Regions from separate parts of the Homo sapiens genome. Here region 1 is linked to region 2. Evidence: fine-mapped expression QTL. A gene starts in region 2. The other region holds a variant in brackets. All regions are shown on one strand. Distances are between the middles of the regions. Region 1 overlaps MYO1F (myosin IF). Region 2 holds the start of MYO1F (myosin IF).

Region 1 (2,903 bases), 56 kb before region 2:
CTCCCAAAATTCAGGAATTTTTTTTTTTTTTTGAGACAGAGTCTCACTCTATTGCTCAGACTGGAATTCCATGGTGCAGTCTTGGCTCACTGCAGCCTCCACCTCCTGCCTCAGCCTCTCAAGTATCAGGGACTACAGGCACGTGCCACCATGCCCAGCTAATTTTTGTATTTTTAGTAGAGACAGGGTTTCACCATGTTGGTGAGGCTGGTCTGGAACTCCTGACCTCAGATGATCCGCCCGCCTTGGCCTCCCAAAGTGCTGGGATTACAGGCATGAGCCACTGCGCCCAGCCCAAAATTCAGGATCTTTAGGCTCAGACCATAGCAGGACTCCAGTCTTAGTCCCAGTTAGGTGAAGACTAAGAGGGCACAGAAATGGGATTGGGGTGCAGGGGGCAGGAGTGACCCAGAGTGCATTGAGGGTGGGAGCATGTGGCATGTGGGACCTGCCTCTCTCCATAGGTCCCAGATGGGTTTGGCGGCTGTAGCTTCAAGACTAACAGGACCTGCTGGACCATTTGGGATGCAGATTTTGGAAGGGAAACTGAGACAAATTCTTTATTTTCTTTTCTTTCTTTTTTTTTTTTTTGAGATGGAGTCTCGCTCTGTTGCCCAGGCTGGAGGGCAGTGGCGCAATCTCGGCTCACTGCAAGCTCCTTCTCCCAGGTTCATGCCATTTTCCTGCCTCAGCCTCCCGAGCAGCTGGGACTACAGGCGCCCGCCACCACGCCCGGCTACTTTTTTGTATTTTTAGTAGAGACAAGGTTTCCCCATGTTAGCCAGGATGGTCTCGATCTCCTGACCTTGTGATCTGCCCGCCTCGGCCTCCCAAAGTGCTAGGATTACAGGTGTGAGGCACCGCGCCCACCTCCTCCCTCCCTCCCTCCCTTCCTTCCTTTCTTTTTTTCTGAGACAGGGTCTTGCTCTGTTGCCCAGGCTGGAGTGCAGTGGCATGATCTCGGCTCACGGCAGCCTCTGCCTCCCGGGTTCAAGTGATTCTCCTGCTTCAGCCTTCCCAGTAGCTGGGATTACAGGCAGGCACCACCACACCCGGCTTTTTTTTTTTTCTTTTTTAAATTTTTAGTAGAAACAGGGTTTTGCTGTGTTATCCAGGCTGGTCTTGAACTCCTGGTCTCACGTGATCTGCCCGCCTCAGCCTCCCAAAGTGCTGGGATTACAGGCGTGAGCCACTGCGCCCAGCCCAAACTGGGACAAATTCAAGCTTTATGGTCACATATGAATGCAAGGCATGGCTCTGTGCAGTCTTGGGTCAGTGAACCTCTCTGAACCTCCATTGTTCCACCTGTAAGATGGGGTCCTTCACAGCTCCTACCTCACAGGGCTGTGAAAACATCGTCCTTGTTGGGCACTTAGTAAGTTAACTCGTGCTTTCACCTGGCAAAGGTTTATTGCCTTAGTGATGACAGAATGAGCAAAGTCACGCTTGTTAAGGACCCCCCCCTCCCCAACTGTGCCTGGCACTTTGCCAACAGCACAGGACTCAAGACCCATTTCTTAATCACATGGCAGTTGGGAGGTAGATTCTGCTGTTAGTCCCCTTTGACACACACAGAAATGGAGAATGGGCAGCAGGTGTGATGTTGGAGGAAGACCAGGGC[C/G]CAGGGGCGGGGGCTGCAGCAGTGACCTGGTGACCCAGGGCCTGGGCAGGACTGGAGGCCAAAGGACTGGACTTTTAGGCTATTGCAGCCCAGGTAAACGAGGCTCTCATTGGCAGGGCCTGGCTCCCCACCAGGCCGGCAGGCAGATAGGCGGGCGAAAGAGAAGGCAGTATCCCAGGGCCCAGCTCAGATCTTCTCCACGTAGTTTCCTGGGAAAAGGCCCTCCTGGCCGTGAAGCCGGCCCTTCCACCAGCCCGAGGGATCTGTGGGAGAGAGGAAAGCTTGAGGTGCCCCTAGCTGGCCCTGGAGAAAGCTCTCATGCCTGGTCTGTCCATCTTGTTCATGGGGACTCCCTATGTTGTCCAGGCTGGTCTTAAACTCCTAGGCTTAAGCCATCCTCCTGCCTCAGCCTCCCAAAGTGCTGGAATTACAGGTGTGAGCCACTGCATCCGGCCATTTCTACTCTTTAAAAGTTTTTTTTTTGTAAATCTTTTGTAGAGATGGGGTCTTGCTAGGTTGCCCAGGCTTGTCTCAAACTCCTGACCTCAAGTGATCCTCCTGCCTCAGCCACTGAAAGTGCTGGGATTACAGGTATGAGCCACCTCGCCCATCTGTTATCTCTGTTCTCCCGTGGGGAGGGTGTGCAGTGGTGGGGTCTGCCTGGCAATGTCAGTCAGGGTTCTTTTTTTTTTTTTTTTTGAGACGGAGTCTCGCTCTATCGCCCAGGCTGGAGTGTGTTGGCGCAATCTCGGCTCACTGCAAGCTCCGCCTCCCGGGTTCATGCCATTCTCCTGCCTCAGCCTCCCGAGTAGCTGGGACTACAGGCGCCCGCCACCACGCCCGGCTAATTTTTTGTATTTTTAGTAGAGACGGGGTTTCACTGTGTTAGCCAGGATGGTCTCGATCTCCTGACCTCGTGATCTGCCCGCCTTGGCCTCCCAAAATGCTGGGATTACAGGCGTGAGCCACCGCGCCCGGCCGATGTCAGGGTTCTTACCACTCCCCTCACCCCAGCTTCTGCCCTGGTACACACACCTTCCATGAGGATCTCAATGACCTCGTTCACGTTGAAGCTCAGCTCGTCCACATCTTGGCCCACGTACTGGTATAGGGCCCGGCACCTGGGACCATGTGTCCGAGGCTGGGGCTTGGGTCGGCCCACACCAGGCACTGGCCGTTGCCCCACGCTGCGCTTCCTCTGCATGCTGTGGGCACAGGGGGTTTGAGTCACAGCCCCAGACACTCCCCTACCCCCTGCCCACCTCCTGGAGCTGCCCTCCCA
Region 2 (2,903 bases):
CCCAACAGTCTCAGAGCTCCAGCTGATGGTTTGGGTGTGAATTCCGGGATGCCCAATTTCTCATCAGCTTTCCTTTTTTGAGACGGAGTGTGCTCTGTCACCCAGGCTGGAGTGCAGCGGCAGGATCTCAGCTCACTGCACCCTCCGCCTCCTGGGTTCAAGTTATTCTCTTGCCTCAGCCTCATATGTAGCTGGGATTACAGGCGTGTGCCACCACGCCCAGTTAATTTTTTGTATTTTTTAGTAGAGACGAGGTTTCACCACGTTGGCCAGGCTGGTCTCGAACACCTGACCTCAAGTGATCTACCTGTCTCAGCCTCCTAAAATGCTGGGATTACAGGCATGAGCCACTGTCCCTGGCCCTCACTGGCTTCCTGAAAGAAGGTGTTGTCTCTCAGACTAACACCACCTCTGCCTCTTGCCCTATGTCCCTGACTCCACCCTAGTAAGCTGTACCTGCCAAGAATCCTGCAGTGGCCGCTGTCACAGCCACATGCTCTCATCCTCACTGACTGAATGACGAGAAATGAAAGCTGAAGTGGTCTACACAGCAGAGAGCTGTGGGGTGGGGTCAGCCCTGGCCACCTCTTACTTTGCGTCTTATGGTGGTACGATACTGCTAGGAATAGCGCCATGATCACGACAGTCTCCCCGTTGCTATCATCGACAGACCTCAGACTTGACAGGCAGCAACACCTCTGGCTGCCATCCTCCTCTTGGGATAAGGGATGCCCACCAAAGGGTGGCATGGACGTATTCAGCCTCTCCTGCCTCTGCTGCAGCCATACCGCCCGTCACCGGCACAGGGAGGGCGTCAATCCACCCCATCGCTTGTTAGACATAGCTTCCCATCTCAGCCGAGGACTCTGTGGCAGAACCCACAGACCTTGAGAATGTTGCAACTGAAAGACCCCTGAAGAGCAACTTCCGCATCTAGACGGATTTCCAAATATGACATCTGTGGGAACCGGGGCCAAGAGAGGGGAAGTGACTAGCCCAAGGCTACACAGGGAGACGAGAGACTGGGCTGGACTGGGAAAGGGCTCCCTTAATTTGCAAGCAAAGGAGGCTATGTCCTTGTCCCTGCAGACTCTGTGATTCTCCCTGGGCCACCTTCTGTCTTCCAGGTCCTGCCCTATCCTTGGATCCAGGGATACCACCCTGGCATCCCCACCACCTACAGATGGGAGCTTGCTCCCTGGTAAGGGATGCTGGAGGCACCTGAGCTGCACTGAGAGACACCCCACCCCCACAGAAGTCCACCATGCCCCTCCCCTCACCCCAATTTCTGATGGTCATTTTTAGGACACCTCCACCTGGCTGGTGTCCCTCCTCTTTCTTCTTCCAGATCCCACCCTTGAAGGACTTACCATGGTGGGGGGCTGGTGTCTGGGCTCCTGGAGGCTCCTGAATGGGTCGTGATGGAGGTGCAGGTTCAGGGGGATCTTGGGGGTGGCTTGGGCATGGCCCTGCTTCTGCCCGTTCACCGGACTCCCGGCTTTAGTTCCTCTTACAACAGCCCCTTCTCACTTCCTTTGGCGGGAGGGGCCGAGGCCATGGGGGAGGGAAGCTGGGTGTGGAGGGGGGCGGGGAGCTGGCTGTTTGGGGCTCTGAGCCTGAAGGGAGGGGTCAGAACTTGATGGCAGCCACTACTGGACCTCAGAGGCCTCTTCCCCAACTCCTTGGGGACAGGGCTGCTGCAGGAACATTTGGGTCAGCTGGCTGCAGGACGAACCACCTCTTTTCAGGGCGATTCAGGAAGCATTTGGGCTTCCCGGGTCTCTTTTTAAAACCAAGGAAGGGGCCCAGGGGAGGTGGCTCACGCCTGTAATCCCAATACTTTGGGGGGCCAAGGTTGGAGGATCGCTTGAGTCCAGGAGTTTGAGACCAGCCTGGGCTATATAGCATGACCCCATCTCTACAAAAAATGAAAAGAAAAAAAATTAGCTGGGCATGGTGGCATGAGCCTGCAGTCCCAGCTACTCAGAGGGCTGAGGTGGGAGGATTGCTTGAACCTGGGAGGTGGAGGCCTCAGTGAGCCCTGATTGCGCCACTGCACTCCAGCCTGGGCGAAAGAGTGAGACCCTGTCTCTAAAAACAAACCAGAAAAAACAAAAAAACCAAAAAAACAACAACAACAGGGAAGGGTGCCTTCTTCAGCTGTGTCTGCTCTGGGCATCCCTGGGCAACCTCCTTCATTATTATTATTGTTATTATTTTGAGACGGAGTCTAGCTCTGTCACCCAGGCTAGAATGCAGTGGTGCAATCTCAGCTTACTTTAATCTCCGCCTCCTGGGTTCAAGCGATTCTCCTGCCTCAGCCTCCTGAGTAGCTGGGATTACAGGTGCCCACCGCCACACCTGGCTAATATTTGTATTTTTAGTAGAGACGGAATTTCGCCATGTTGGCCAGGCCGGCCTTGAACTCCTGACCTCAGGTGATCCTCCCAACTCGGCCTCCCAAAGTGCTGGGATTACAGGCATAAGCCACCACGCCTGGCCCAACCTCCCTCTTTAGATGACCCTCAGAAGTCACACGTGTTTGTGTGCAGAAGTGGAGGGTACTGGGAAGCAGGTGCATCTGAAAGGTCCCTGACTTTGGATGTCACATCTAGATTTAACAGCCTCCAGTTTGGCTACTTCCTGGATGACTTAGTTACTCCCTTTTCTCATTGTAAAATGGGAACGTGGGTCCCCCCAGCAGAGCCTGGCCCAGGTACGTGTCAGCCTATGAGCTGGTCTTTGGGACACCAGCCAACCACCTGAGGCTCCTCTTGACATGTGAGGAAATGGCAGTTCTAATAGGTTGTTACTTCCCCACACCACCCAGCAAGGAGGTGGCCGAGGCAGGACCCGACCCTGGGAGACCCTGGGGGACCCATGTTCAGATCTATCTTTGGTCC

Evidence for each region.
Region 1: its variant is fine-mapped to the expression of MYO1F in whole blood (TOPMed, PIP above 0.99).

The regions. Positions count from the first base shown.
Region 1 is chr19:8,519,721-8,522,623 of GRCh38, forward strand. It overlaps MYO1F (myosin IF), which reads right to left. Exons shown (of 28, transcript NM_012335.4): 27 at 2,657-2,826; 28 at 1,058-1,884. The coding sequence ends at 1,808. Among named protein-coding and RNA genes, the nearest start is that of ZNF414, 7.0 kb to the left of the region's middle. The variant C/G (reference allele first, on the strand shown) is at 1,622.
Region 2 is chr19:8,575,937-8,578,839 of GRCh38, forward strand. MYO1F (myosin IF) reads right to left here and starts at 1,506. Exons shown (of 28, transcript NM_012335.4): 1 at 1,371-1,506. The coding sequence starts at 1,373. RefSeq lists enhancers at 1-10, 351-410, 581-760 and silencers at 881-930, 1,468-1,617, 2,838-2,903.